7 linked regions of the Homo sapiens genome follow. The protein of the gene in region 4 purifies or fractionates together with the protein of the main gene of each other region. This does not show direct contact. Each region holds a gene or a part of one and is shown on either strand. Other genes may lie near its edges.

Region 1 (3,500 bases), about 14 Mb from region 4:
TTTTGGCTATCTGCAATAGCCCACATCGGTCTGCCTTCGGTAATACTGGGCCTGAAGATTGGTATTCATCTTTACTCCTTACCAGCCACCTCCCACAATCCCATGCTTTATCTCCCTGGACCCTTTAGCCCTATTTCCATGTGTCTTCTAAACTAACTTAATCTAAGAGAACAGTTCCTTGCAGCTGTGTGTCTTTGAACCAGGTTATTTTTTTCTCTGCCTCCTCTTCCCTGTGGATGAAAGGAGGTGAAGTTTCCCTGGCCTGAGTGGCACGGTTCCCATTATGCAGGGGGTGGGAGGCTGCTATGTCATGCTCGTATTGGCCAGCCTTGTCTCCACCAAATTTCACAGTGTGAAGCAAGGGTATACACATCCCTAGGTGGCAGACTTTGAGTTAGAAGCCTAGGTCCAAAACCCCAACTGGACACATGATTTCACTCTTTGAACCTCAATTTGTTACTCATCTGTAAAATGGGGATAGTGAGCCCTGCCCTGTCTACCTTACAGTGTTGTCAGGAAGATCACATGGTCTGTGTGAACTCCCTTTGTGAACTGTGAAGAGCTATACAAATGAAGGCATGATAGGATTCTACAATGTATGGTTTCTTTCTGCTTTGTTTTTCTTCCCTGTAGAAAGGCACTATAAGACAGGAAACAGCAGTAAAGACACTTCGATGGGAGGCAGAAGCAATAGAGGTCATGTGTCTTCAGTGGGACTGGAACACTCTAGGTCTCTAAATTTGGTCTTTTATTGTGAATCTAAATATAACCAAGATATATTGAGGTTAGGCCTCATTACAGTTGTCAGGTGGCATTGAGAAGCCATACCTGGTGCCACTCGGTTCTTAGAAGGGCTCTCATTGATCAGAAGCCGCTGGCTTGGAGACAGGGATAACAGCCTGACACTTTTGTGGTCCTTGGCAATATATGCTTCATTGGGCCCTGCATGGGAGTAGGCCAGCTCTCCAGCATACCACATCTCTGGCAAGGGTCTAAGGTGAGGCATGCAGGCTCACTATAGACATCTGGAAGACAACTGGGGGCCTGGTTTTTTGTTGTTGTTGCTGTTATTGTTTTTGGAGGATATGGCTTATATCCTGTAGCCTTGATGGCCTTATCTGGTGTTTGGTTAATCCAGGGCACCCTAGGACTATGTGTCTGTGGCTGAGCCTTGGCTTAGTATGCATCCTCAGTGAATTTCTTTTATACTAGGCTGACTAGAAATGGTTGGGGGAGACTGACCTAGACACCCCAGGTAACAAGGGAACACACACCTCAGGTTGGAGAGGAAGACCCATTCCTCGGCACCCCCTCTCCGCATTTGGTGGTGCTTAAAGGTTCCCAATGGCAGTAACTGGCTGGTTTCTCCTCTAGACCTTCTTCCCAGAGACCACGGACATCTATGACAAAAAGAACATGCCCCGGGTAGTCTACTGCATCCATGCTCTCAGGTGAGAGACCTCAAATTTTATCATCCAGGTTCCTCTAGGTGGATGCGACCAACAATCAACAACAACAAACTCAGCAAGAAAGAAGGATGAAGGGTAGACCACAGGGAGCACTGCTCAGGAGAGTGAGGTTTCAGATTTACAGAGTTGTGTTTAGATTTTTGTGCATGTCTGTGGGCACATTTATGTATGGCCTGTGTGGGTGAAGGGGAAGGGCAGGCAGGGTACCAGAGATAGGAAAGTAGCAGGGTAGGGCCTTCAGTTTGTAACTGGGTATAAAGGAATCAGAACAGGACCTATTGAGAGCAACACAGGCAAGACACTTAGTATGGATGGTGTAGGCTCTTTGGTCCTACTTACAGCCAGCCATCAGCAACCAGTTGGCTAAATCACAGCAAGTGACCGACCGGTTCCTTGTGTTTACCATGCCATCTCTTTCTGACCACTTCCCATGTCCCTTTGTGCCCCTGTGCCTTAGCTCAGCAGGTATCTGCTTGCTGCGCCCTTCCTGTCCTCTCTCTCCATTGAGTGACCTGCTACTGCAATGTGGCCTTCTCTGTGAAGCCTTCCTAATCCCCTCAGACCCCCAACACCATCTTATTTACCTTCTGCAGCACTTTCCTTGGGCTGATTTATGGTCATATTTCTTTATGTGGGTTGGGGATGACTTGAGGGCAGGTGCTGAGTGGTCTTCATCTCTAGGTCCCCATAGTATCCCCTTCAAACCCATCGTGGGCAGAGTGTCAAAATGAATAGGCCCCAGTGCCTTCCAATGCCTTCCGTTTTTTCCTAGTCTCTTCCTCTTCCGGCTGGGATTGGCCCCTCAGATACATGATCTATACGGGAAAGTGAAATTCACAGGTAAGCCCAGCTCCTTCCCTGACCACCACAGCCTGGGCAGGGTCTTGGGGGTTCTGGGCCTGATGAAGGGCACCTGTGGCATCATTGCAGCTGAGGAACTCAGCAACATGGCGTCCGAACTGGCCAAATATGGCCTCCAGCTGCCTGCCTTCAGCAAGATCGGGGGCATCTTGGCCAATGAGCTCTCGGTGGATGAGGCTGCAGGTAAGGACTAGGCTCTGCCCTGCCAGGAGTAGGCTCAATGCGTATGGGAGGGCTCCAAGCCTCACAGCCATTGGATGGGTTCTGGCCAGCTCTCATCCACAGATAGGGCCATCAGGCTACCTGGTTTGTCTGGCCCTTGAGGGTGGGAAAAAGGATGACATTAGAGTGGGCTGCTACTGGTTGCGCTCCAATCTGGGATTCACTCTGGCCTCCTGACCTTGTTTCCATGCCCTCTCCCAGTCCATGCAGCTGTTCTTGCCATCAATGAAGCAGTGGAGCGAGGGGTGGTGGAGGACACCCTGGCTGCCTTGCAGAATCCCAGTGCTCTTCTGGAGAATCTCCGAGAGCCTCTGGCAGCCGTCTACCAAGAGATGCTGGCCCAGGCCAAGATGGAGAAGGCAGCCAATGCCAGGAACCATGTAAGGAGTAGTCTTGGGTTGCAGGGACCGAAAAGTTGAGTGGCTGGAAAGTCTCAAGTGAAACCGGGACTCCTATCTGTCATGTCTCTAGTATCCAAAATTGCTTCTTAGAGAAACCATAATTTATCAGTGATTTTAGAGAAATAGGAAAGGAACTTGGAAGAATGATGAGAATTCCGAAGAGAAGACTGGAGAAGAGGTTCTTGGGGGATGATCTTCAGGGAAGCCTGAGAGGGGTGCTGGAATGTAGAACAGAATGAGATTGGACTGGAGGTTCCAAAGGTTGGTTTGGCTTAATTATGTCAGTGCCAAGTGTTTTAGACCCCACAATTCCTGAATTCTGAGCAGACTGAACTTTGGCCTTGGGAAGGTCCCCAGAAGAAGAAATAAGTGTAGCCAGGCAGGGAAGAGCAGGACAAGGAGATTAAATTGGGTTTCCCAGGTTCCCTTTCAATGGAGTTTTTGCAGGATGACAGAGAAAGCCAGGACATCTATGACCACTACCTAACTCAGGCTGAAATCCAGGGCAATATCAACCATGTCAACGGTAAGAGACCTCGAGCAGGAG
Region 2 (5,060 bases), on a different chromosome or scaffold from region 4:
GGGTTCAAGAGATTCTCCTGCCTCAGCCTCTCAAAGTGCTGGAATTACAGGCATGAGCCACCGCGCCCAGCCTCTTTCTCTCTAAAAAAAGGCCTGGCCAGGCGCGATGGCTCATGCCTGTAATCCCAGCACTTTGGGAGGCTGACGCAGGCGGATCACCTGAGGTCGGGAGTTCGAGACCAGCCTTACCAACATGAAGAAACCCCATCTCTACTAAAAATACAAGATTAGCAGGGTGTGGTGGCGCATGCATGTAATCCCAGCTACTCAGGAGGCTTAGGCAGGAGAATTGCTTGAACCCAGGAGGCGAAAGTTGTGGTGAGCTGAGATTGTGCCATTGCACTCCAGCCTGGGCAACAAGAATGAAACCGTGTCTCAAATTAAAAAAAAAAAAAGCCTGTTCTCACCGGGTGCGGTGGCTGACATGTGTAATCCCAGCACTTTGGGAGTCCCACGCGGGCGGATCACCTGCGATCAGGAGTTCAAGACCAGCCTGGCCAACATGGTGAAACGCCGTCTCTACTAAAAAATACAAAAAATAGCCAGACGTGGTGGCGCATGCCTGTAATTCCAGCTACTCAGGAGGCTGAAGCAGGGAGAGTTTCTTGAACCAGGGAGGTGGAGGTTGCAGTGAGCTGAGATCTCGCCACTACACTCCAGTCTTGGTGACACAGTGAGACTCCATCTCCGGAAAAAAAAAAAAAAAAAAAAAGGCCGAGCGCAGTGGCTCATGCCTGTAATCCCAGCACTTTGAGAGGCCGAAGCGGGTGGATCACCTGAGGTCAGGAGTTCGAAACCAGCCTGACCAATATGGTGAAACCCCGTCTCTACTAAAATTACAAAAATTAGCTGGGCACGGTGGCAGGCGCCTGTAATCCCAGCTGCTCTGGAGGCTGAGGCTGGAGAATCGCTTGAACCCGGGAGGCAGAGGTTGCAGTGAGCCGAGATTGCGCCACTACACTCCAGCCTGGGCAACAGAGAGAGACTCGGTTTCAAAAAAAAAAAAAAATCTATTCTCTTAATAAATGTCAAAGTCATAACGACAAAGCAAGACTGGAGGAACTACTTCAGATTAAAGCAAACTAAAGAGAGACACAACTAAATGCAACGTGCAGTCCTGGATTGGACAATTGGCAAAAAGGGAACATGGAGGGTGGATTAAATCGTACTGTATCAAAGTTAAACTTCCTTGTGGTAATTGTAGTTATGTAAGAAAATAAGACTGTCATCGCACATCTAGTCTACCAATCAATAGCCCCTAGTCCCAAGGCCGCCTCGCCTCCCTGGCTATTTAGTGATGAGTCAGATGATACCTCCCAGCGCTTCGCCCTCGCCCCCTGACATCCTCCCTATCCCTGCTTTAGGGGCTTTTCCTCTCTTACTGTGCCATACCCTCCACCGTCTCCCCTCCTGTCTCCTGGGCTCTACTCCTCCCTGCCCTCCTCTGCGTCCTGGCCCTCCCGCTCTCTTCCGCTTTGCGCTCCCAGGCTCCTTCCACCTCCTGCCAGCTCCCTTCCTCCTCCAGGTGCGCACCCCCTACCATTAGCCCCGCTGCGCGCTTGCGCTCTACGCCCAAGGGAGCCGGGCTGCAGAGCTGGAGAAACTTCCGCGGCTACGGGTGCAGTTGCCTTCGGTTCCCGGTTCCGGGCCGACACCCGCGCAGGGCTGAGACAGGTGTCTGCGCTCCCCGCAATGGGCTGCTCCAGCAGCGCCCTCAACAAGGCCGGCGACAGCAGCAGGTTCCCCAGCGGTGAGCAGGGTACCGGCGCCGCCCGCGCCCGGGCTGGGGACTCGGGTGGGCTAACTCCCCAGGAGGTCCAAAGGGTGTGTCCCGTGGCCACCCCGCCTGGCAGGAGCCGGGCCTTGTCCCGGAGGATGCGAGCAGAACCCGGGACAAAGCGCGATTTCCTTCCAAATCTGGAGCGGCGCTGCTGTGACCGCGGGTGCGGCGGCCCTGGTGCGCTCCGCGGCGCTCGCTGCGAGACGCGCGGGGCCCGAGGCCGGGCGCTGGATTCACCCTGTCCGCTGATGGGATCTCGGGGAGTTGGTGTTGAGGCCCTAAGGCGGTTAGCCTCGGCATTGCCTTAAACACAGGAGAAATGTCCTATCAAGGCCTTCTACCAAGGCTGGGGGCGGTGGCTGACGACTGCAATCTCAGCACTTTGGGAGGCTGAGGCGGGACGATCTCTTGAGACCAGAAGTTCGAGAAAAACCTGGGTAACAAAGCGAGATCTTCCGCTCCCCCGTCTCTACTAAAACACCAACAAAAAAGACTTTTCCCCATTTACCCTCCCATTAGCGTTTCAGCATCAAAGATGGCAAAAGATGCGGAGAATCCAGAGGAGCATTCACTCCATCAAATGGGTCCCTGCACTCTGAATAGGTCAGACACACTTTCCCCTATCTTCGGCTTAAGTATCAGTTGAGAAGTATGTGTGATCAAAAGTGGTCATCACTGACTCTTGCTGAAGAAACTCAACAAGGACATTTTGAGCATCTGCTATATAATACCCCAGTGCTTGGCTAGATGCTGGAGATACAAGTGACCCTGTTTGTAGAGATTGAAGATAGAAGAGACAGAAAAGAAACACGTGAAACAATTGGCTAAGATCGTTTCTGACAGTGATAAGTACTGTGAAAAGTATAAACGCAGTTACATGAATTAGAGAATGACAGGGTTTTACAGCCGACTCACTTTTCTTAGATTTTGAATGGCTAAAATTTTGGACAATGCTATGGAGGTTAAGCAAACTCCGTCAAGCTAGTTTACAGTCTTCTGCAAGGCGAACTTTAGCGGGGATTTTGTACTGGAGTGAATTCCTTTTCACAGATTTTCTCTTAGCACCTTGTGTTATTGCAGTAACAGAAATGTCTTCCTCTGATGTTGTTGGTAGAGCGCACCAGACGGTGAGGAATGCTTTTCAAAGCTCAGCCGCTGTGTCCTAGTCAGAAATATGTTGTGTTGCTGTTATTTTTGTGGTGTATGAGAATTTATTTCTAGTTTCCATAGATAACGGAAAGCAATGACAAGTCAGGAAGTAAACAAAAAATTAAAAGCATTATAAAAGTAAACCCCTTCTCACTGACAACAATGTGAAAAGATGGAAAAATTCATTTCTAATGCACAGTGCTCACTAACTTTTCTCCTAAAGAACCCAGAGCTTCCATACCTGCAACAAGAGGACAGAGCAAGGAGTTTCTCCGATGTTTCGATGTTTCGTGTTTTATGTTATGAAATTAAGTAGAGTTTTGCATTCTGTTCTATGATAGATTTTTGTGGGTTTCAATATGAAAAGCCGAGGGAAAACAGATGCTTCAGGAAGATACATTTTATTATTCTGACTTCTCTACCCCATGCTGTGCTTCAGTTATCCTAGGAGTAGCATCCTGGTTTAACAAGCAGAGTACTGAGTCACCATTACATAGTTTTAAACTGATTAAAACATGTATTTCAGGGAATGTAACTTTGGGGCAAAAGTATTCAGTAGGTGGAATGCAGTTTTTAATCCTCTCAGAAAATAATGAATAACTTTATCTTTAAAAATATTTTATCATCAATATTAATAACTATTCCACGTGAGTTACACTCTTCCATTTTTTATTCTTGCTTTCATTGCTGTTCTGAGTTTTCATAGGTGTTGTTATGGAAGAGATGTTAAAATGCCTGACAGCCAGTTCTAGCCCTTAGAAAATTAACCTAATATGCGGCGTAAATTGCTCAACACACACGTTGAATCAATCAACAGGTCTATTTGCTTCTAACCCTCGATCAAACAATACTCTCTTGTAATTAGATACTATTCTGTGTTCATCAACATTTCAGCTTCATGATCTTAGGCCCGATAAATAATTCATTCCTGTTTCTGCACCTTGCAACTTCTTTAAATCCTATATACAACCTCAAGCTTGTGTGTACATACTTTTAGACAAAAACAGTTCAAGTTTATTACATGTCTGGTACATGCATTTATTCACTGTACTCTCAGTGCCTAACAACGCTTGGCATATAATAGGTCCTCAGTAATTATTTGTTGAATGAATTACTTCATTTAATCCTTATAACAATGTTATGACTAAATATTATGGTTGTCCTGTTTTTACAGATAAGAGTAAATAATTTATCCAAGGTCACAGAGCTTCTAAGAATCAGAGCTGGGCTTTGAACTCATATGCTTTGTTGGGCACAGTGGCTCATGCTTATAATCCCAATGGCTCTGGAGGCTGATATGAGAGGATTGCTTGAGGCCAGGAGTTCAAGGCCAGCCTGGGAAACATAGTAAGACCCTGTATCTAAAAATTTTTGTAAAAAAATTAAAACATGTATTTCAGGGAATGTAACTCTTGGTGGTACAGGCCAGTAGTCCCAGCTACTCAGGAGGCTGAGGTGAGAGGATTGCTTGAGCCCAGGAGTTCAAGGCTGCAGTGAAGTATGATTGAGCCATTGCACTTCAGTCTGGGCAACAGAGTGAGACTCAATTAAAAAAAAAAAAAAAGAAACTATATGTTTAAACCAGCTTCTGCTAACTAGATTTAAATCTGTTTTTGCCTCAGATCACTCTGGATCCCCATTAGGTGTGTGGTCACCCACTATCTAAAAACAATGAAATCAATACAATACAATCAACAAATTATACTATGTATCTTTTTTTTTTTTTGAGACGGCATTTCGCTCTTGTTGCCCAGGCTGGAGTGCAATGGCATGATCTCGGCTCACTGCAACCTCGGCCTCCTGGGTTCAAGTGATTCTACTGCCTCAGCTTCCCGAGTAGCTGGGATTACAGGCATGTGCCACCACACTCGGCTAATTTTGTATTTTTAGTAGAGACAGGGTTTCTCCATGTTGGTCGAACTCCCGCCCTCAGGTGATCCACCCGCCTCAGCCTCCCAAAGTACTGGGATTATAGGCATGAGCCACCACGCGTGGCCTATACTATATATATTATTTAGGGATAGAATAATCCCTTATTATGATTCTAAATATTAGTCTAATCCCTAAATAAGATATATAGTATAATGTGTTATACAAATATTATATATTTATTTTATTTTTTATTTAAAAA
Region 3 (4,525 bases), on a different chromosome or scaffold from region 4:
GGGCAGTACTTTCCCTTTCTCTTTCAAGGACCCTCTCCTTGGCAGTAAACAATGACCAGTCCTTAGCACAAAAAAACTATGAATAATGACACAATTAAGAAAAAACCATCTAGGATGTTTAAGGCTTAGACACAGCTATAGCACACAAGTTTACAGCCAAGAGGGAAAATCATGAATAATATGAACTCATAGCAATAAGCTATAATTTTGCAAGAAGCATTTTAAAATATACGGTATCATCTGACCAAGTGACTGTTATCTCTGATCCCCTTTCTCGTCCTACAAGCCCCAGAATATTTGTCCCTTTCTGATGACCGTGGGCTAAGTATCCTTACTATCCTCACTACTATACTAGAACTTCTTGAATGCAGACACTGAGTTGGGCATTAGGGTGACTGCAAGTATGACTGATGTCAACCTCTTCCTCCTCAATGGGGGTGGGGGGACCTAGTTTTATGTCTTTTGTATCATTCTAACACATCACACAAGATAAACGTGAAAGGCATAATACATTCTTAACATGCGTCTAGCTCAGGATACAGACATCCTGAAGTGCCCAAATGCTGCCCAGTTTTAGCTTAGAACCTTCACTACTGGGATCCACTAGAAAGTCTTCTCTTCCCAGTTTTACCTCTTATAGGCTAAAGCAAAGTTCTCTCTTGTTCAAGGTCTCCTGGTGCCAAGGACACAGAACCCATCCTGAGCTTCTCTGGTCTCTTGGCTGCACCGTGGCAGTGTGGCCTGCTCAAGTTCTAGTCTCCTGTGTTTCCACGTTCAGGTCGCAACAGTCTTCATTCCCTTCGACTCCTCACATGTAATGTTCCAAAATTCATTCATTTCCTTTCTCTTTTTATTCCTATCATTTCCTTTTCACTCACCCTGAGTCTAAATCCCTCATTGCCTTTCTCTTATTCATCATTTAACTGAATCCTTGACACAATCAATTTCTTAAAATTTAACTCATGTAGACCATAGGGTCATAGCTCGTCATGTGGAATGTGGTAAAGTCTGAGGCAAGTCACATATGCTCAAGGACATGAACAAACAATGCATAAAAAATATGGCTAATAAGTATACGTATAAGGGACAAGGTATTAAAATATAATTGTGTTAAATTTAAGCAGCAATTATTTACAATCTTGCTTCCTCCTCCCCTTTCTGAGAGGAAGGCAGGCTCCTCTGTTGAACTTCCAAGCCTTTGTGTGTTTAATGGGCTAATGGGTAGAGATGTAGAAGGGCAGATATTAAGAGAGTCTGAGCTACAAGATTAAGGGTTACAGAAGAAAACATAGGAGTAAATCTTTGTTATCTTGGATTAGGTGATGGTTTCTTAGATATGACACCAAAGGCACAAGTGACAAAAGAAAAAACATAAATTGGACTCCATAAGAACCAAAAACTTTTGTGCTTCAAAGGATACCACCAAGAAAGTGAAAAGACAATCCATAAAATGGGAGAAAATATTTGCAAATCATATACCTGATAAAAGACTTCTAATCAGAATATATAAAGAACTCTTACAACTCAACAATAAAAAGACATACGAGGCTGGGCACAGTGGCTCACGCCCGTAATCCTAACACTTTGGGAGGCCGAGGTGGGAGAATCATGAGGTCAGGAGACAGAGACCATCCTGGCCGACATGGTGAAATCCCATCTCTACTAAAAATATAAAAATTAGCTGGGCGTGGTAGTGCATGCCTGTAATCCCAGCTACTTGGGAGGCTGAGGCAGGAGAATCGCTTGAACTAGAGAGTCAGAGGTTGCAGTGAGCTGAGATCATGCCACAGCACTCCAGCCTGGTGACAGAGTGAGACTCTGTCTCAAAAAAAAAAAAAAAAAAAGACATATGATCCAGTTTAAGACAGGGCAAACAGTATGAATAGGCATTTCTCTGAAGAAGACATACAAGTGTCTAACCAGCACATGAAAAGATGTTCAACATCATTAGTCATTAGAGTAATAAAAATCACAATGAGATACTACTTCACTCCAGCTGGGAGGGATAAAATAAGAAATACAGACAATAACAACTAGCAAATGTTGATGATGATATGAAGAAACTGGAACCCTGAAACATTGCCGGGAGTATTGTAAAATGGTGCAGCTACTTTGGAAAAGTCTGACAGTTTATCAAAATGTTAAACATAGTGTCATCACATGACCCAGCAACTGCACTCCTGGGTATATACCCAAGAAAAATGAAAACATATGTTCACACTAAAGCTTGTACACAAATGTTCATAACAGCATTATTCACAGTAGCCAAAAAATTGGGCACAATCGAAGCCAGTCACAAAGGGCTTTTGTGATGTTGTATGATTCCATTTATATGAAATGTCCAGAATAGGCAAATCCATAGAAATAGAATGTCCTGAAATCAGGCCAGGCGTGGTGGCTCATGCCTGTAATCCCAGCACTTTGGGAGGCTGAGGCGGGCGGATCATTTGAGGTCAAGAGTTCAAGACCAGCCTGGCCAACATGGTGAAGCCCTGTCTCTACTAAAAATACAAAAATTAGCCAGGTGTTTGTCACCATTTTTGTAAATAAACATGTCTGTATGCATAGAAGAAAATCTGTAACATGCAACAAACTGTTACCAGTGCCTATCACTGTTGAATGATTTGGATTATTTTTAATTTTATTCTTTTTGCTTCAGCTGTATTTTCTAATTTGTATGTAATAAATACCCATTTTATGCATAATTTAAGCAATTTTTTTCTTTTTTTTGAGACAGGTTCTCACTCTATCACCGAGGCTGGAGTGCAGTGGTGCGATCATGGCTCACTGCAGCCTCAGCCTCTTGGACTCAAGTGATCCACCTCAGCCTCCTGAGTAGCTAGGACCACAGGTGTGTGCCACCACGCCTGGCTAATTTCTGTATTTTTTGTAGAGACATGGTTTCTCCATGTTGCCAAGGCTGGTCTTGAACTCTTGGGCTCAAGTTATCCACCTGCCTTGGCCTTCCAAAGTGCTAGGATTACAGATGTGAGCCACCATGCCGGGCCTAAACAATTTTTTTTCTTTGAGGGGGTTTCTCCTTTCATACATAACTACGTTTCCCCTGGAGTCCTGGCCATAATCCCGAGTCTGGACTAAAAGGAGCATAGAGAACTTTCTTACATAGATAGCAGTAATTTTAGGGGTACCTATGGGTTGCAGCCATCACTGACCTTCAATGAGTACCTTTTCTTCCTTTTTAAAGCATTTTCAAGAGGCATTCACAAGTATCACATAAAAGAATGTATGATTCTGCCACAAAACCATTACCAGGACATACATGCATTAATATGGAAAAACTGATGTACAGATACAGAATGCAGAAAGCTGACTCTCTAAATCAGAGATGAAGAACACATGAGCGTGGGAGATGACGGAGCCCTTGGCTGGAGGGCACTGACAATTGTATTGTAATGTGATGTTGACATATCTATCTCCCAGACTGGAGCACAGTTCTGAGGTTGGAGACTGCAATACAGTGAACTCTGTGCTTGGAACACAGTAGGTGCCTGGTTATTTGTTGACTACTTTTCCCATTAAAATAACCTGAGTTGTTAGTCTTTTTATGATTGAATTATAGGAGTTTTAACATTTATTCTGGATACAAGTCCTCTGTCAGATATATGCCTCATGAATATTTTCTCTCAGCCTGTGGCTTGTCCCTGTTTTCTTAACTGTGTTTTTTGATAAATAGTTTTTAATTTATTAAATTTAAATTGATCAATTGATCAACTGATCATAGAGTTTGTTTCTCTATGGTTAAATCTTTCTGTATCCTAAGAAATCTTTACCTGTCCTAAGACCATAAAGAAATGTACCTATGTTTTCTTCTAAAAGCTGTATAGTTGTAGCTTTTACATTTAGGTTGTATTGAATCCTACTTTAACTGTCAAGCTCTTTCACTGATTGATTTCATTTTATTTTATGCTTTTGTATCTCAGAGAAGATCTTATTCCTTTCTGATCTCCACACAACCAAGAGAAAGGCCGAGCAATGGCTCCTCCATAGACGATTCCAATTCAGCCATCTAAGGGGAAGTTCTCCAGGCATCTCATGAGATTTTGTACTCATGCTTTGCCCACCCCATTCACATTTACTTACAAGGCACTTTTTATGTATGCATATCTTACTGATCCTTACATCAACTTCCAAAGGAGGCAGAGCCATCTTCATTTTTAAAAATAAGGAATTATTTTTATATTTATAAAATTTTAAAAAATGTTATATGATATAAAAATAATTTAAAAAAATTTTATATATATAAAAATTTTAAAATAATTATACACCCAGAAAAATGAAATGACTTGCCCAAGACCACTCAGTGAATAAATAACAGAATTAAGATGAGACTCAGGAATCCTAACTTTTGATCTTTTTTCTTGGTCAGTTAAGAATATAATGAGAGTAGACCTAGCATGGGGGCTCACACCTGTAATCCCAGCACTTTGGGAGGCTGAGGCAGGTGGATCATGAGGTCAAGAGATTGAGAACATCCTGGCCAACATGGTGAAACCCTGTCTTTACT
Region 4 (4,525 bases):
TCATATGGGACTTAAGCGCTTTAGTAAAGAGTTGAGACTTTATTTTGAGTGCATTGGTGAACTATTGAAGGATATTAAAAGTGAACAACATTTGTTCATTCATTTAATAGTTGAGATTCTACTGTGTAAAAGTCATTAAGCCAAGTGATAAAACATATTTGGTAAATGAAACATAAATATATTCCCTGCCTTCATGGCATTTACACTCTAGCAAGTAATACAGACTTTAAAATATACTGATATTTATTGTATTTATGAGTGCTATATGAAAAAAGTGTGTGGCTTTTGTGTCAAGCATTTCTCACATGGTATATCAAGGTCCATCTGTGTGGTAGCATGTATCAGTACTTCATTCCTTTATATAGCTGCATAATATTTGCTGTGGTTTGGATATAGTTCGTTTCCACCAAAGCTCATGTTAAAACTTGGTCCCCCATTGTGGCAGTGTTGGGAGCTGGAGCCTGGGAGGTGTTTCAGTTTTGGGGGTGGATCCCTCATGAATGGCTTGGTGCTGTTCTTGCTGGAGTGAGTGAATTCTTGCTCTAGTGAGACTGGATTAGCTCTCTTGGGAATGGATTAGTTCCCTCTAGAGTTGGTTGTTATAAAGCCAGGAAGACCCTTGGGTATTCTCTTTTCTCACTTCCCCTTTGATCTTGTCCACTGTGTTATAATGAAGCACAAAAGCCCTCACTGGAAGCCAGAGTCATGCCCTTGAACTTCCCAGCCTGCGGAACTGTAAGCTAAATAAACCCCTTTTCCTTATAAATTACCTAGTCTCAGGTATTGTGTTATAGCAACATAAAATTGACTAATTCAGTATTCCATTTTATGGATATACCACATTTTGTTTGTTTATTGCTCATCTGGTGGTGGACATTTGGGTTGTTTCTACCTATTGGCTATTGGGAATAAAGCTGCTGTGAACATTACTGTACAAGTTTTTGTTTGAACACTTGTTTTGTATCTTTTGGTGTATACCTAGGCCTGGAATTGCCAGACCATATGGTAATTCTATGTTTAATTCATTGAGGAACCACTAAAGTGTTTTCCCTAGTGACTGCACCATTTTACATTCCCACCAGCAATGTATAAGAATTCAGTTTTCCGTATCCTCACTAACACCTGTTATTTTCTGTTCTGTAATTATTACTATACTAGTGGATATCAAATGGTATCTTATTTTGGTATTGATTTGCCTTTCCCTAATTACTAATGACATTGAGCTTTTCATGTGCTTCTTGGCCATTTGTCTTTATTCTTTGGGAAAAGGAGTTCTTTGTAATAGAACCTTGTCAGATACATGATTTACAGATACTTTGTCCCATTCTGTGGGTTTTCTTTGCACTATCTTGGTATGTAAAACTTTCATATGCAAACATTTTTAATTTTGGTGAAGTCTAATTTATTCTTTTGTTGCTCATGCTTTTGGCATCGTTATTTAAGAAACCACTGCTAAATCCAAGGTCATGAAGGTTTGTCCCTCTGTTTTCTTCTAAGAGTTTTACAGTTTTAGCTTTTACATTTAATATCCTTGATCCATCTCGAGTTAGTTATTGTCTATGGTATATGGCAAGGGTCCATCTTCATTCTTTTATATGTGACTATCTAGTTGTTCTGACATCATTTGTCAGAACAAATGTCAGAAAAGAACAATTGACTGTTCTTTTCCTCCATGAATGGTTTGGGCAATTTTTTTGAAAATTAAATGACCAAAAATGTTGGGGTTTATTCCTGCACTCTCAATTATATTTCATTGATCTATCTGTCCGTGTGCTAGTACCTCACTGTTTTGATTACTGAAGCTTTGTAGTGAGTTTTGAAATCCAGAAGTGTGAGTCCTCCAACTTTGTTGTTCTTTTTCAAGGTTGTTTCAGCTATTTAGGGTTCCTTATATTTCCATTTGAATTTTAGGGTTGGCTTTTTCATTTCTGCAAAAAAAGCTATTGAAACTTTGGGAATATAATGAATCTATAGATCACTTTGGGGAATATTGCCATCTTAACAATATTAAGTCCTTCAGTCCATGAACATGTGATTTCTTTTCATTTAGTTCATATTAATTTCTTTCAGCAACTTTTTGTTTTCAGTATACAGTTGTTCCTTGGTTACGTTTACTCCTGAGTATTTTATTCTTTTTGATGCTATTGGAAATGAAGTTTTCTAAATTTCCTTTTCATATTTTTCAGCTCCAATATGTAGAAAAACAGTGGATTTTTTTGGTGTGTTCTGATCTATTCTCCAACTTTGCTGAATTTATTAGCTCTAGCCAGTTTTTTGTGCCATTTTTAGAATTTTCTATATATAAGATTATGTCTTCTGCAGATAGAAATAATTTTACTTCTTCTTTTTCAATCTGGATGCCTTTTTATTTTTTTTTCCCATGCCTCATTGCTCTGGCTAGAATTTCCAGTACTATGTTGAATAGAAGTCAGGAAAGTGGATAAACATTCTTGTCTTGTTCCTGATCTTAGGGGGAAAGCTTTCATTCTTTCACCATTGAGTATGATATTGGCTGTAGATTTTTCATATATGCCCTTTATTATGTTAAGGGACTTTTCTTCTATTCCTAATTTATCAAGTACTTTTATCATGAAAAGATGTTGGGTTTTGTCAGATGCTTTTTTCTGCATCGATTGAGATAATCATGTACTTTTTTTCTTCATTCCATTAATGTGGTGTATTGTATTGAAATGCCCATGTGGCCATGTTGCGTGGTCCTTTTAATATACTCCTGTATTCTGTTTGCTAGTATTTTGAGGATTTTCACATCGACATTCATAAAGGGTATTGGTCTAAAGGTTTTCCTGTAGTGTCTTTGTCTTGCTTTGGTATCAGGGTAATGGTGGCCTCATGGAATGAATTAGGAAGTGTTTCCTCTACTGTTATATCTTTTGGAAGAGTTTGAGGGGTATTTATGTTAATTTGTCTTTAAATGCTTGGTAGAATTCACCAGTGAAGCCATCTGGTACTGGACTTGTTGAAAGGTTTATGATTACTGATTCAATCACCTTACTTCTAATTCTGTTCAGATTTTCTGTGTCTTTTGAGTCAGTTTTGGTAGTTTGTGTGTTTCTAGGAATTATTCTTTTTCATGTAGGTTATCCAATTTGTTGGTGTTCATATTATTCTCTTGTAATTTTTTAATCATCAAAAGAGCAGCAGTAATGTCCCACTTTCATTTCTGATTTTAGTAATTTGAGTCTCTTCTTTTCTTTTTTAGTCAGTCTAACTAAAAGTTTTCCAAAAATGTTTGTTGATCTTTTCAAAGAACTAACCTTTGGTTTCATTTTCTCTATTCTTTTTCTAGTCTCTGTTGCTGCTTTTTATTATTTCCTTCTGCTAGCTTGGGGTTTTGTTTGCTCTTCTTTTTCTAGCCCCTTAAGGTGTAAAATTAGGTTATTAATTCAAAATCTTTTATTTATTTTTTTAAATAGAGCGTCAGTATAGAGTGTCTTATTGTGGATCTGTTTGAGTTTATCTTTGAATTTCATTGAGCTTCTTGGATGTGTAAGTTTGTCTTTGGTCTAATTTGGGAAGTTTTTGACTGTTTTTTCTCCCAGTATTCTCTATGTTTCTTTCTTCCTCTCCTTTCATACCCTCATTATGCATATGTTGGTATACTAGATGGTGTTCCATAAGTCTCTTAGGTTCTGTTTATTTTTCTTCATTCTGTTTTCTTTCTGTGCCTCAAAATGGACAGTTTCATTTGACATATCTTCAAGTTTGCTGATTCTTTTCTCTCTCTGCTCAGATCTGCTGTTAAAAACCCTGTAGTGATTTTTTTATTTCAGTTATTGTACTTTTCAGATCTAGTGTTTTTGTTTGGATCCTTATGATAATATATTTTTAAACTATTTATGTGTTGAGACATTGTGTTTCTCCTTTTTCTTAGTTATTTGCACTGGTTTCTTTTTGCTCTTTGGACATATTTAAGACAGTTGATTTAAAGTCTTTGATAAGTCCAGTGTTTGTGCTGTAGCATGGACAGTTTCTGTTAATTTTTTTTATTGTGAGAATGAGAATGAGTTTCTTGTTTCTTTGCATGTTTCATATTTTGTTTTGTTGAAAACTGGGTATTTTGAATATTATGGTATCCAAAGGAAAAAAAGAAAAGAAAAAAATACTCTTCAGATCTTTGTAGGTTGACTCAGTGTTTGGATATGGCTTCAACACTTAGCCAGGCAATTTACAATTTTACCTTAGCCTTCATTTGCTGCTTGCACAGAGCCTGAAGACCAGCCAGAGGTAAAAGCTTATGATCTTCCCAGGTTTTTTCTGGGTATGTATTCTGCCCTGAGCATGCTCATGGATTTCTAGATTTCTCTTTATATGCAATAGCTTTTCAAAGCATCTATTCCCCCAAAATGTCTGACTCCCTGGACTTTCCTCTTGGGCTTTCAGCTTGTGTTTTGTTTGACCCAGCTATTACTATTTATCCCAGGGGCCAGCAGCTTGTATGCTTGGCTTTCACTGATTTCAGTGACTGCATAGCTGCACTATCCTGATAAGAGTTTAAAATTAGTCA
Region 5 (4,525 bases), on a different chromosome or scaffold from region 4:
TTGTTGTAAAGATGCTCTTCAACTTATGATAGTGTTACATCCTGATAAACCCATTGAAAATTGAAAATACTGTAAGTCAAAAATGCATTTAATACACCTAGCCTACAGAACATCACAGCTTAGCTGAGCCCACCTTAAATGTGCTCAAGACACTTACATTTGCATACACTTGGGCAAAGTCATTTAACACAAAGCCTGTTTTATAATAAAGTGTTGAATATCTTATGTAATGTATTGAATACTGTACTGAAAGTGAAAAACAGAATGGCTGTATGGGTACTAGAAGTACAGTTTTTACTGAGTGCATATTGCTTTTGCATCCTTATAAAGTTGAAAAATCAAAAGTCAAACCATCATAAGTCAGGGACTGTATTTGTCTCTGTATTAGAAGTTAATGAGGTAAGAAAAACACTATACCAGAGATCCTGGACACATGTCACTTAACCGCTACAAATTTCATTTGCCTAATGTGTAAAATCGCTGCCCTACCAACTCCAAAAGACTGCAGTGTTAGGCACACATGAATATGCTTTATAAAGCATAAAACTCTTATACAATGGAAGGGTAAGATTACACATCTAGAGGATTGCTTCTGAGCTGCTCTAGGGAAATCCTTCTTTGGTTCTAATCATTCAGAAATTTGGTAAAAACCTAACATCTTTTTTCAAATTCTACACATATTTTTTAACCTAAGTTGATAGGCCTTGTATTGTGGGATCAAATTAAAGACACCAGAGGCAGGATGCAGTGGCTCATGCCTATAATCTCAGCACTTTGGGAGGCTGAAGCAGGAGAATTGCTGGAGCCCAGGAGTTTGAGAGCAGCTTGGGCAACATAACGAGACCTCATCTCTACAAATAATAATTTTAAAAAATAGCTGGGCGTGGTGGCTCACGCCTGTAATCCCAACACTTTGGGAGGCCGAGGTGGGTGGATCACCTGAGGTCAGGAGTTCGAGACCAGCCTGGCCAACATGGTGAAACCCCGTCTCTACTAAAAATACAAAAATTAGCCAAGCATTGTGGTGCACGCCTGTGATCCCAGCTACTCCGGAGGCTGAGGCAGGAGAATCACTTGAACCTAGGAGGCAGAGGTTGCAGTGAGTTGAGATCACGCCACTTCACTCCAGCCTGGGCGACAGAGCGAGACTCCGTCTCAAAAAAAAGAAAAAAGAAAAAAATTTTAAAAAATTAGCTAGGCATGGTAGCCCACGCCTGTGGTCCCGCTACTTGGGAGGCAGAGGTGAGAGGGTGGTTTGAGCCCAGGTGGTTGAGGCTGCTGTGAGCCATGATCACACCACTGCAATCCAGCCTGAGCAACAGAGCCAGACTCAGTCTCAAAAAAAGACACCAGAAAGATGCTTAAGGAATAAATCCCTAGGGAGTAGATGGGTTACGAGTTGAGACTGTCTCCTGACCATCAAAACATCCCCTTCCCTATAGAAAAAAATCAAAGAAGAGTGATGGGATTGGGGTTGGTTTTCTGAAAGCATCTTGCAACATTTAAATATGAGCTTCAAAACCCTTTTCCAGTTTTTGCTTTCACCAATCTTCTATTTTGTTAATAGCTAACCCTTTACTGTATTGAGTGTTTTACTCTTTTATGCCAGATTTTGGGGAACTTAGTAAAAAACTGGCTGAGGTGTGGAAGCAATTACCAGAAAAAGACAAACTGGTAAGTACATTTTCTTACAAACATATTTTTCAGTGCTTCTCGCCTTCCAAAATATGTAATTCTTCCATAGACTAGCCAGCCAGACAGCACTGAAAATAGTGAAGAAAATTACAAATCAACAGAAAATGGTTTAGCAGAGGACATTAACACTGTTAGTGCCAGTTCACTGTACATGAGGATTTAGCTATAGCAAGGCTGTCTTTTCTAACCTGGTCTGTTTTTTCCAGCAGTGTTACATTTGAGCCAAAAGATGACCTAAGTTGAGGAGTAATTAAAGTGTTAAAAGAAAGTCTAAAATCAGAGCCCTTTACTGCAAACACCTAGTAATCAGTCATGGTCTGAGAACTGAGGAAAGTTATCCACTTAGCAGTCACTGCAAACAATAAAAATATGAGAATGTGATTACTAGGTAACCAGGTTCAAGGTCATCATCCTCATCAACCATTACCAAATAATGTACTCTACTATCAAGAAGGTAGTAAGACACTGATAAACAGTCATATCTGGGCTGGGCACGGTGGCTCACGCCTGTAGTTCCAGCACTTTGGGAGGCTGAGGCGGTGGATCACCTGAGGTCAGGAGTTCGAGACAAGCCTGGCTAACATGGTGAAACCCCATTTCTACTAAAAATACAAAAAATTAGCCAGGCATGGTGGCGCATGCCCGTAATCCCAGCTACTCGCGAGGCTGAGGCAGGAGAATCACTTGAACCCCGGAGGCGGAGGTTGCAGTGAGCCAAGATCACACCATTGCACTCCAGCTTTGGGCAACAAGAACAAAACTCCATCTCAAAAAAAAAAAAAAAAAAAAAGTCATATCTGAATCATTGAGACTTATGATATGAAGGTCATATAGGAGCAAGATGTCATCTAGATGAACAGCCATTCTTCACCCAGATTATCCTTAGTTTTTGTTTTCCTTGTTATTGTTATTCTGCTATTGTGTTGGTATTGCCAACTAGCAGGTTAGTAGAACCACATAGACATTATATTGAGCCAGAGGTTTAATCTGTGATTTTACATTTCAACTTAGAGTGATCTAAAAATCAGTGCCGAGATTTGACCATTAGCATTGAGGAATGTTTATAGTCCTTTACTAAGATATTAATGTAGTCAGCTGTCTGAAGTCAGTTCGGTGACCCCCAGCTTAAAAGTTAGCATTAACCCTCTGTCTGCCCGCCTCTTACTATTGCCTTTCTTTTCTCCATTTTGTTCTTTCATGACTGCTTTTCCTTTTACATTTTGTCCTTCTTAATTTAATTTAATGTTCACTGATGTGATTGCAGATTTGGAAGCAAAAAGCTCAGTATCTGCAGCACAAACAGAACAAAGCAGAAGCCACAACTGTGAAAAGGAAAGCATCCAGCTCAGAAGGTTCCATGAAAGTCAAAGGTAGTGACCACATCCCGCCCCTGCTTTTCTCTAAAGCATGTGAATTTTGCTTCCTTGCTAAGAAACTGGGAAAAAAGCTTGCAGTATTAGAAGTGGACCTTGATTCCCAGGTATTATTACCTGGGAATGTTACAAGCTACCAAAAAGAGATGTTCAAATTTAGAAAATGCAAATCAGAAGTCAGCAAACTTTTTCTTTAAAGGTCCAGAGAGTAGACCAGGCGCAGTGGCTCATGCCTGTAATCCTAGCACTTTGGGAGGCCAAGGTGGGCGGATCACCTGAGGTCAGGAGTTCGACACCAGCCTAACCAACATGGAGAAACCCCGTCTCTACTGAAAATACAAAATTAGCCGGGCGTGGTGGCGCATACCTGTAATCCCAGCTACCAGAGAGGCTGAGGCAGGAGAATTGCTTGAACCCGGGAGGTGGAGGTTGCGGTGAGCCGAGATCGTGCCATGGCACTCCAGCCTGGGCAACAAGAGCAAAACTCCATCTCAAAAAAAAAAAGGTCCAGAGAGTAAATATTATAGGCCTTGTGTGCCGTATGCATTCTCGCATTCTCTGTCACATATTCTTTGTTTTTCTATAGCCCTTTAAGAATGTAAAACTATTCCTAACTCACAGGCCATAAAAAACAAGAGACCATAGACTGAATTTAGCCCACAGGCCACAGTTTTGCTAATGCCTGGTATAATTCATAAAAAGGGAAAATCAGGAAGAACAACTTTGTGTTGTTCAAGGCTGTAGGCAAGTTTTACCTGTCTGCCTCATTGCTCTGTTCTCAGCCTCTTCTGTAGGAGTACTGTCACCCCAGAAGAAGTCCCCACCCACCACCATGCTGTTACCAGCCTCACCAGCCAAAGCCCCTGAGACAGAGCCCATTGATGTTGCTGCTCATCTTCAGCTGTTGGGAGAGTCCCTAAGCCTCATTGGACACCGTCTGCAGGAAACTGAGGTGAATACAACTATCAGCAGCATGACTACAGTTTCCCATATAGTTTCCCATATAATTTTGATTCATTCACTCATTTTACATACATGTATTGAGCATCTACTTTATGCTAAATTATGCCAGGTTCTCAGGATGGCGTAACATAGAAGATATAATGATAATAACAGAAATATCTATAGAGATATTCAGTCTACCTGTTAGCTCTCAAAGTTTCACTAATGATATCCTATTGAAACAATGGCACAAAAAGAAATTGGAGTACCCTGTAACTTATTTTTATTTTTTTAAAATGCAGTGGAGGCTGGGCGCAGTGGCTCACGCCTGTAATGCTAATTTGGGAGGCCCACCTGGGAGAATCGCTTAAGGCCAAGAGTTCGAGACTAGCCTGGTCAACACAGTGAGACTCCATCTCAAAAAATACATATATTCAAAAAATTTAAAAGAAATAAAAATGGGGCCGGGCGTGGTGGCTTATGCCTGTAATCCCAGCACTTTGGGAGGCTGAGGC
Region 6 (4,525 bases), on a different chromosome or scaffold from region 4:
TGTAATTATAAATAGTGTAATATACTTAATATAAGTAATAAGTGTGTATAAACTGAAAACATGGTTCATTTATTTATATCCTGAATATATTGTTTAAAGAAATTGGGTTCTTAAGACCAAAGTGTCCACAACTGGAAGATGTTAAAGATACGCTGATGAGTAAAGGAGTGATCATAGTGGTTTTCTGCTTGCTTGTTCAGTAATTTTGCTTACTGCTCTTGAAGGTTATGCTAATGAGTAAAATGAAAACTGCTAAGGAATGTAATAACCTTACCACAGTTCAAAAAATTTGCAGTTTACTATAAATGGCTTTCAATCATGAAGAGTAGCGAGTTTTAAGTTCTTAATGGAACTTTCTATGATTATAGTTTGATATATATATATAATAGAAAATTGACTAAATTCAGTCAGATTTTGGGTTCAGTTCTGCGACCTGTGTGATACTTTGTAATTTATCTTAATCCTCTTCTGTTTTCCAAGATTACTTTCTCTTTCTGAGTCTTCTCCCTGTTTTCCAAGATTATTAGTATTATAAGACTATTATTTTGTTTTTGATATGTAGCAACTAAAGATATGAGTACTTTTCAGAATTTAGGGGACTATGGTAATTTGAGATAATTATCTCTGTTTTCTTTCTTAGCCTGTGGACATCTCTACAGCAATGAGTGAACGGGCACTTGCTCAGAAAAGACTCAGTGAGAATGCATTTGATCTTGAAGCCATGAGCATGTTAAATAGAGCTCAGGAAAGGGTATGTAGCAGTTTTTTAAAAAAAATTATTATTTACCATCAGCCAACTCACACCAATGTACCAGTTTTAATGTCTAAATAAGAATTTTGCTAACTAGATGGTTGAGTTGTAACATCCTTTACCTTATTTTCAATGTCTTATTTTAAATGAAAGTGATTCGAGGCCTGATCATTTATTCAATAAATGTTTATTGTTTACTATGTGGCAGGAACTGTTTCTTGAGAGAACAAAATAGAAAAATTTCCCTGTCCTCACAGAGTTTACAATCTGGTGTATAAAAACAACTAAGTGCCTACAACCCTATGAAATGTGTAGGTATTAATAGTTGCCATATTTCAGCCGAGAAAACTGAAGTAAAGGGTGGTTAAGGCCAGGCATGGTCGCTGATGCCTGTAATCCCAGCACTTTGGGAGGCCGAGGTGGGGGCAAGGAGTCAGGAGTTCAAGACCAGCCTGGCCAAGGTGATGAAACCCCATCTCTACTAAAAATACAAAAATTAGCTGGGTTTGGTGTTGCATGCCTGTAATGCCAGCTACTCAGGAGGCTGAGGCAGGAGAAATGCTTGAACCTGGGAGGCAGAGGTTGCAGTGAGCCAGGATCGCGCCACTGTACTCCAGCCTGGGCAACAGAGTGAGACTGTCTAAAAAAAACAAAAGAGTGATTAAGTGATATCCATAGTCACACAACTAATTAGTGGGGGAACTGGGATTCAAACCCAAGCAATCTGAATCTGGAGTCTGTGCTTTTAACAATGGACAGCCTCTCCATTTCATTTCTACTGTTTTATGGTAAATCAGTAAGTACATGTTCAGACAGGAAATACATTGCTGACAGTGCAAGGTGTTTAGTAAATCTAATTTGTGTGAATGACAGCTGATCTTTATCACAACAAATGTTGGTGACTGAAAAAAAGTATACAAGCTTCTTTAAAAAGTTGTTTTACGGCCGGGTGCAGTGGCTCACGCCTGTTATCCCAGCACTTTGAAAGGCCGAGGCGGGCGGATCAGTTGAGGTCAGGAGTTCAAGACCAGCCTGACTAACATGGAGAAACCCTGTCTCGACTAAAAATACAAAATTAGCCGGGCGCGGTGGCGCATGTTTGTAATCAATCCCAGCTACTCTGGAGGCTGAGGCAGGAGAATCGCTTGAACTCGGGAGGAGGAGGTTGCAGTGAGCAGACATCGCACCATTGCACTCCAGCCTGGGCAACAAGAGAGAAACTCCATCTCAAAAAAAAATAGTCGTTTATGTATTCAAGTGGACAGTTTCCTACATTTAAACTCTTTAAACCTGTGTCATGAATTTAGTCTGTATAAATGTCTCAAAGGAAGTAATTAAGAATCCAGGCTGTCATGACATGTATTACAATACATTTGTATGAGATAGGAAGGGAGGGTGGGGACCCATTGTCATATGAGCTCTTTTTTGCATTTTTAGTGTATCTGTGTGATAGTTTGAAGAATATTAACAGCTGTATTTTTTAGTAGCTGTGCTTTTAGATACATTTCAAAATCTTATTAATGGGATTCACTAAATGTTGTCAAACTGCTTCTTTAGAAAGTTTAGGCAAACATTTAATGTTAAATATGTTTTAAAAGTTAAATATTTAAGTCTGCTTTTCAGCCATTTTTAGTGAATTATTACCAGTGATGTTTTAATCAGGTAATTTTACTTAGTTAACTGAGACTACTTCTTTTCTTCAGATTGATGCCTGGGCTCAGCTGAACTCTATTCCTGGCCAGTTCACAGGAAGTACAGGAGTACAGGTTTTGACACAAGAACAGTTGGCCAATACTGGTGCCCAAGCCTGGATTAAAAAGGTACACAGTATATGCACATATGAAAGTGTCGAACAAAAAGTTTAAATTTTTTGGAAACTGTTTATTAAAACTGCATGAAAAGACCAGTGACTCTAACCAAAGTTCCAAGTAAATTTGCTATGTGTATATGCTCCAGGGCGGACACTGAAGACGGACTGGATTCATGAGAAAATGGCAAATGTATAAATGTGGCTCAAGAGCCACTAACTTATAAGGTTATTTTAAAAATTGTTACTGCTGCTTTTGAAGGGGTGATTTAACTTTATTTTGAACGCTAATAGTGTATCAGGTGCTGTTCAGAATATTCCACAGTTCCTGCTGGACTACTAACCTAATCATTTCAAAGCAGTGGTTCTCAAATTTTTCTTCATCATGGGATACTTTATTACAGGTTTATTTTTAGTGGATCACTGCCCCCAAGAGCCCTCTACCACCTTAATTTTCCATTCCTCTATTCCTTTGCCCTCGCACCCCACCCGCTTCATTAGTGCCTGTGCCTTCTTGTAAGATCTCTTGGCCCCCGTTCCTCACTCCTCTTGTGACCTGTAGCCCCAGGACCTTTTGGTTGTCAGCTGCTGGTTACAGCAAGTGGTTGGGAGGCCCTAGTATTAGCTCTGCATGTGGTGATCTTGCCATGGGACTGGAAGCCTGAGGGAGGATGGCTGGAGTGGGGTGGGCTGTGGTGAAGGGGATGGGATGGAGATTAATCTGTGGACCACCATTTAGGCCCTAGTGGCCTCTGGTGATCCACAGGCTCAATTTGAGAACCACTAATTTCATGACAAAACAGATATGTAAGACCTAAAATCAAGGGAGAGAATGGACGCCTCGTGCTACGAAGATGTAGGTGCATCTGGTTTCAGATTCTGCAGTGAGACCTGTGAACTCCACCTACGGCTGCCTCATCATTGGGGGAGTCTTAGGTGGCTAAGAAGGGCATTCTGAAGAAACGCGTTGTGGTGAAGGGACAAAGCTTGGTTGGATGGGTGATGGGAAATTTGTTACAGGAGTACTGGCAGCATAGCAGTGCTGAAACTGGGAGGCCGCGTGGTCTAATGGATTGGGAAGGTTTCTTTATCCTGTTGTACTCCTGACTCCTTGTGTAATCATGGGCAAGTAACTCTTTGGAATTTCAAAGTCTCTGAGGTGTCTAGTGGTAATCAGTAACGTGATGGTTACCTATAGAGAGTTGCTATGAGTGCCAGTGAATGAGCTGAATTTCTGAAAAATGAGACATTGGTTGCTTTGTGTATTTTAATCTTGTAACATTTATTTCAATTTTGATAGCTTTATCTTTGTTGATCTTACTAACAAATTAATATGAAACATCATGTATACTCATTATGCCTGCCTTTTTTTGGGAAGTAGTTGCACTGATGTGTATAGTGAGTACACAGTTAGATTCATTAAGAAATTACAATTTCTGCAGTTTGCTGAGGGTTGGTGTTAGAATAAAGGGTGAAAATGTATATAGCAAAATATTTTAAAGATTGGATTAATCTTGGACTTCTATATTATAGTTACTATGAAAGTGATTTATATAATATTTGAAAAAATGTCTTTCATCTTTGGAAGAACTATAAATGTACATCTATTTCTTTAGTTTTAATTCTTTAATACTATTTAGTCTTGAAGCTAAGTACTCAGCCAGTATTTCAGGAAGTTAGAAATAAAGCTTATGGGTGTTAAAATAGGCACATAATACAGAGTCATGTACACTGCTAGGTAGAAACTTCTGAATGTGCTTCCATTACAAAATTTTGGTCTTTATCTAATGATGTGCTGATCCATAATGTTTGTATACTTATAAATGTGTTAATAACTTAAATAACTTTTAAAAAGTGAATCTTTTACTGACTCAATTGGTTTTCCCCTAAAATAATTTCTTCTGGTATTTGCAGTCTTGTAGGCAGTTAACAGACTTTAATAACTTTAAAATGTTTAGTAGCACCTT
Region 7 (4,525 bases), on a different chromosome or scaffold from region 4:
GGCTAATTTTTTTTTTTTTTTTTTGGATAAGCAGGGTCTGAGTTTGTTGCCTAGGCTGTCTTGAACTCCTAGGCTCAAGCAATCCTCCTGTCTCAGCATCCCAAAGTGCTGGGATTACAGGCATGAGCCACCATGCTGACCTAAAAATAAGATTTATAATCAAAAGCCATACATTCTGGCAAAACTATTAATGAAAAAGGGAGTATATATGTATTTGATTTTTTTTTTTTTTTTTTTTTAGACAGAGTCTGGCTCTGTTGCCAGGCTGGAGTACGGTGGCACAATCTTGGCTCACTGCAACCTCTGACTCCCTGGTTCAAGTGATTCTCCTGCCTCAACCTCCCAAGTAGACGGGATTACAGGCGTATGCCACCACGCCCAGCTAATCTTTGTATTTTTAGTAGAGACGGGGTTTCACCATGTTGACCAGGATGGTCTGGATCTCCTGACCTTGTGATCCGCCCACTTTGGCCTCCCAAAGTGCTGGGATTACAGGTGTGAGCCACCACACCTGGCCCAATATTTTTTTAAAAAAGAGCTAAAGAAGAAAAAAGAAGTGAACTCAAGTTTCGAAGGTCTTACTAAAGGTCCCCAAAAGGGTTTATGTCACTGCCACTTGATTATGGAGAGTAGATTGTGATGGAAAGTGTGGAAATAGAGGGGGGATAAAGTAATTCAATGACAGAGATAAGTGGCAAATGATTATCGTATGCTAAACTCAGACTCCAAAATCCCTTTGGGAAAAACTCCTGTAATGTCAAGTAGAAAGTTTAGCCTTGGCTTCCTCAGTGAGATATATTAAGACTTTTAAGGCACTGAGAGCGCATGAAGGGTCTCCCTTTTAGAGACCAACATGAACATCCAAATACTCAAAGGTACTTCAAAGCTTAACAGACCTGGTTACGACTTCTGGGCCTCTGAAGTTTTTACTCCACTCACAAAGTAACAATGTATGTATTAATACTACTACCATTACTATAAAGACAACAATAATTACAACTATCACTGCCAGTATTGCCCCTGCTACTGACCACCACCTTTCCTCTATCCAGCACTTGCTTTGAGCCAAGCCCTGTGCTGGGTGCTTTACATAGATAACATCCAATCCTCCTACAGCTCCATAAGAGAAGTGTAATTGCCTCCATTTTACAGGTGAAGAAACTGAGACTTAAAGAGGTTAAAAATCTATCCCAATGGCAGAGGCAGATTTGAAACTAAGTCTGCCCAACACCAAAGTCTACTATCCTTTGACTGTGGCATGCTTTCAGAGGTACTATTTACTGAGTTTCTGTTATCTGCCAGGTACTAGGCTAGTCATTTTTAAAAAATATATATTTATAACTCTCAAAAACAATGTTAAGAGATAGGTCACAGATCATACAACAGAAGTTATCGGGGTAAACTAACTTCCCAAGAAGCTCACAGCTAGTGGCAGACTTACTTTTAAATTACTGGTTTATCACTGGTGAAATAAAATAAACCTAAAAATTAAAACTCTTTCCTTTAGTATAAGGAAAATAAGAGGGAAAACTCAGTACTAACCAGTTTAAATCTAACATTACATAAAACAAAAATAGACTTACCTGGCTATGTTCTTTATGCTAGAAAATAATTAAACCTGTTTAGAGTTCTAAGCACCAAACCAGCCACAAAAGACTGGAAACTAGAATCAATTTTAAGTTACGAAGACTAACACTCTACAGTTCCAGAATGCTTTCAAATAACATTTTAAATGATTGTTCTTTTTCTGAAGAAAAAAGAAAAACGCTCCAGATAACAATAGTTTATCCTTACAACATTCTAGTGATATAAACAGGGAGTTAGTTGTTTTCTCTTTATAGAAGGGAAAGGTCCACTGAGTACAGAAAAACTAAGGGATTGTCTATAGTTCTGAAACTTGAGCCTGCTGGCCTTCACTCAGAGGTAGATCTCTGCCTGCCCAATGAGGATGCTCTGCCCTTGACACTGGCTACACTTTTCCTCCAACTGAAACAAGGCGAGCTGATTTTCACAGGATTATGAGACCCATCTACTGCTTGAATTTGGCTCTCCTGCAGGGAGCATTAATGCTTGTTTCTAGATGTGGAGTTCAATTCAGTTCAATGGTGATAATTTTTAATTCACTGCTTTTTTTAAAAAAAAATACAGGTTCTTAAACAAAGAACTCAATGGAAATAATTCACTGCTTTTGACCTTTAGCTAAGGACCCACTTCTAATCAAAATAACAAAAAGTATGGCCACATGTGGTGGCTCACACCCGTAATCCTAGCACTTGGGAGGCCAAGGCGGGAGGACTGCTTGAGCCTAGGAGTTTGAGACCAGCCTGGGCAACATAGTGAGACCCTGTCTCTATTTATGTTTTTTTTTTTTTGGTTTTGTTTCGTTTTGCTTTTTTTGAGACAGAGTCTCACTCTGTCACCCAGTCTGGGGTGCAATGGCACGATCTCAGATCACTGCAACCTCCACCTCCCAGGTTCAAGTGATTTTCCTGCATCAGCCTCCCAAGTAGCTATGATTACAGGCGTCCGCCACCACCCCTGGCTAATTTTTTGTATTTTTACATACATGGTTTCACCATGTTGGCCAGGCTGGTCTTGAACTCCTGACCTCAGGTGATCCACCCGCCTCCACCTCCTAAAGTGCTGGGATTACAGGTGTGGGCCACCACATGCAGCCTTTTTATGTTTTAATATTTTTACTATTTTTAATATTTAAAAAAACCAAAATAACACAAAGTGGCTTGAATAGATAAAAAGAAAGTACCACTTTCATTATATAGCAGAAAAACACACAAAATTCCTACTCCAAAGGAGGCATAAGCAAGAAACTAGTAAGAAAAAGAGAAACAACTCCCATTGGTTGAGCACATACTATGTGCCAACCACTGTTCTGAGCACTTGAAATGCATTAACTCGTTTATTTTTATAACAACTCTTATGATTCCCATTTTGTGAATGAGAAAATTGTGGCACAAAAATGTTAATAACTTTCCTAGGATGATAGGATTCAGTGTCATGGTAAGTATTAACAGAAGAACAAGAATTTAAATCCAAGTAGAGAATCCACATTCTGAGCACATTATTCACAAGACAGAGTATAATTTAAAATGTGGTAAATGACAGTGCCACTAGTGGCTGCTAAGTGGCCTGGCCACAGCTCGCCATGCTCATTCCACCACACCACTAGACCCTCTAATGGCAAGAGAATTATGGACTAGACAGGGGATGGGGCTGACTCAGGAGGGCAGCAACTCTATCTTTGTGAAAAATAACATCATATGACCATGTTTACCAAAACCAAGCTGAAAAAAAACTTTAAGAGTAAATTTTGGAAAGAGAAGTAGCCAAGTTCAAATTATTTCATATAAAGAAATAATTGATTAGAATGTCTATACCAAAAGCCACAAATATTTGCAGAATACGAAAATCTGACTTTAATAAACTTTAAATCATCTTTGGACTGGCAAGCTTTTCTTTCTTTTTTTTTTTATTTTTTGAGATGGAGTTTCACTCTTGTTGCCCAGGCTAGAGTGCGATGGCATGATCTTGGCTCACCACAACCTTCATCTCCTGGGTTCAAGGGATTCTCCTGTCTCAGCCTCCTGAGTAGCTGGGATTACAGGTGTGAGCCACCATGCCCAGCTAATTTTTTTGTACTTTTAGTAAAGATGAGGTTTCACTATGTTGGCCAAGCTGGTCTCAAACTCCTGACCTCAGGTGATCCACCTGCTTTGGCCTCCCAAAGTACTGGGATTAGAGGCGTGAGTGACCGCACCCGGCTGGACTGGTAAACTTTTCTAGGAAAAGATCTTCCTAGAGTTGGTTTTCCCCTATCCAAACCTATCTTTTCCATTTCTTCCATTAGACCTTTGCTTTGATGATGATGATGATGATGATGATGACCAGGATGCTTTTGCATTTACTGAGTTTCTACTTTGTGCTCAGAAGTGTGTTAAGGTTTTTGCACTTAATAACATAAACTTTCATTTAATATTCATGACAACCCTACAGAGTCAGCATCCTATTGTCTCCATATTACAGATGAGGAAATTGAGATTTTAAGAGGTGAAATAACTTGCCCAAGGTCACAAAGCTAGTAGATAAATTCATTTTTTTCTGACCTAAACACCCATAATATTAATCAAATAAGCAAATATGGGTGGCTACCTGACTGTCCCCTCCTTATTTAGAGACAAAAACCACAGTGAGTGCTGCACATTCCAGCCAAATTCCATCACTTCCAAGTCCTGGACAGAAATGAAGGGATATGGTCAGGAGGCTTAAGAGAGCCACACTGGGCAAACTGGCTTGAAATCTAAGGGTGCTTTTGCCACTCTCTTTAAACCAGAAAGAAGTACACTCTCTTAGAAGTAAATGAAATATTTATAAAGATGATCTAACTAGAAAAACATCCCAAAGACAGACTAGTACGTTTAGTTTTTCAGAACATTTATTAATACGAAGTTCATCACGGTTCTGAAGGAAAAAATGAAGTGTTTCAAGACTGCACTAAAATATAAAAAAA

The links.
Region 1: the proteins of KIFAP3 (region 4) and IQGAP3 purify together in Homo sapiens (affinity purification with mass spectrometry; one large-scale study listed by BioGRID and IntAct). This does not show direct contact.
Region 2: the proteins of KIFAP3 (region 4) and ERICH5 purify together in Homo sapiens (affinity purification with mass spectrometry; 2 studies listed by BioGRID and IntAct, with this or other methods). This does not show direct contact.
Region 3: the proteins of KIFAP3 (region 4) and RUSC2 purify together in Homo sapiens (affinity purification with mass spectrometry; one large-scale study listed by BioGRID and IntAct). This does not show direct contact.
Region 5: the proteins of KIFAP3 (region 4) and HMGXB4 purify together in Homo sapiens (affinity purification with mass spectrometry; one large-scale study listed by BioGRID and IntAct). This does not show direct contact.
Region 6: the proteins of KIFAP3 (region 4) and SON purify together in Homo sapiens (affinity purification with mass spectrometry; one large-scale study listed by BioGRID and IntAct). This does not show direct contact.
Region 7: the proteins of KIFAP3 (region 4) and CRYBG1 purify together in Homo sapiens (affinity purification with mass spectrometry; one large-scale study listed by BioGRID and IntAct). This does not show direct contact.

Annotation. Positions count from the first base shown.
Region 1 is NC_000001.11:156,562,566-156,566,065, reverse strand, and holds part of IQGAP3 (ras GTPase-activating-like protein IQGAP3), read left to right. Parts: coding exon 1-39; intron 40-633; exon of another isoform or gene 634-730; intron 731-1,374; coding exon 1,375-1,451; intron 1,452-2,241; coding exon 2,242-2,309; intron 2,310-2,399; coding exon 2,400-2,513; intron 2,514-2,753; coding exon 2,754-2,932; intron 2,933-3,400; coding exon 3,401-3,479; intron 3,480-3,500.
Region 2 is NC_000008.11:98,062,978-98,068,037, forward strand, and holds the start of ERICH5 (glutamate-rich protein 5), read left to right. Parts: upstream 1-1,590; 5' UTR 1,591-1,692; coding exon 1,693-1,750; intron 1,751-5,060.
Region 3 is NC_000009.12:35,541,627-35,546,151, reverse strand, and holds part of RUSC2 (AP-4 complex accessory subunit RUSC2), read right to left. Parts: intron 1-4,525. UniProt on the Homo sapiens protein: Associates with the adapter-like complex 4 (AP-4) and may therefore play a role in vesicular trafficking of proteins at the trans-Golgi network.
Region 4 is NC_000001.11:170,067,687-170,072,211, reverse strand, and holds part of KIFAP3 (kinesin-associated protein 3), read left to right. Parts: intron 1-3,294; exon of another isoform or gene 3,295-4,525. UniProt on the Homo sapiens protein: Involved in tethering the chromosomes to the spindle pole and in chromosome movement. Binds to the tail domain of the KIF3A/KIF3B heterodimer to form a heterotrimeric KIF3 complex and may regulate the membrane binding of this complex.
Region 5 is NC_000022.11:35,284,388-35,288,912, forward strand, and holds part of HMGXB4 (HMG domain-containing protein 4), read left to right. Parts: intron 1-1,609; coding exon 1,610-1,674; intron 1,675-2,959; coding exon 2,960-3,065; intron 3,066-3,850; coding exon 3,851-4,020; intron 4,021-4,525. UniProt on the Homo sapiens protein: Negatively regulates Wnt/beta-catenin signaling during development.
Region 6 is NC_000021.9:33,566,517-33,571,041, forward strand, and holds part of SON (protein SON), read left to right. Parts: intron 1-640; coding exon 641-751; intron 752-2,454; coding exon 2,455-2,571; intron 2,572-4,525. UniProt on the Homo sapiens protein: RNA-binding protein that acts as a mRNA splicing cofactor by promoting efficient splicing of transcripts that possess weak splice sites.
Region 7 is NC_000006.12:106,363,299-106,367,823, reverse strand, and holds part of CRYBG1 (beta/gamma crystallin domain-containing protein 1), read right to left. Parts: intron 1-4,525. UniProt on the Homo sapiens protein: May function as suppressor of malignant melanoma. It may exert its effects through interactions with the cytoskeleton.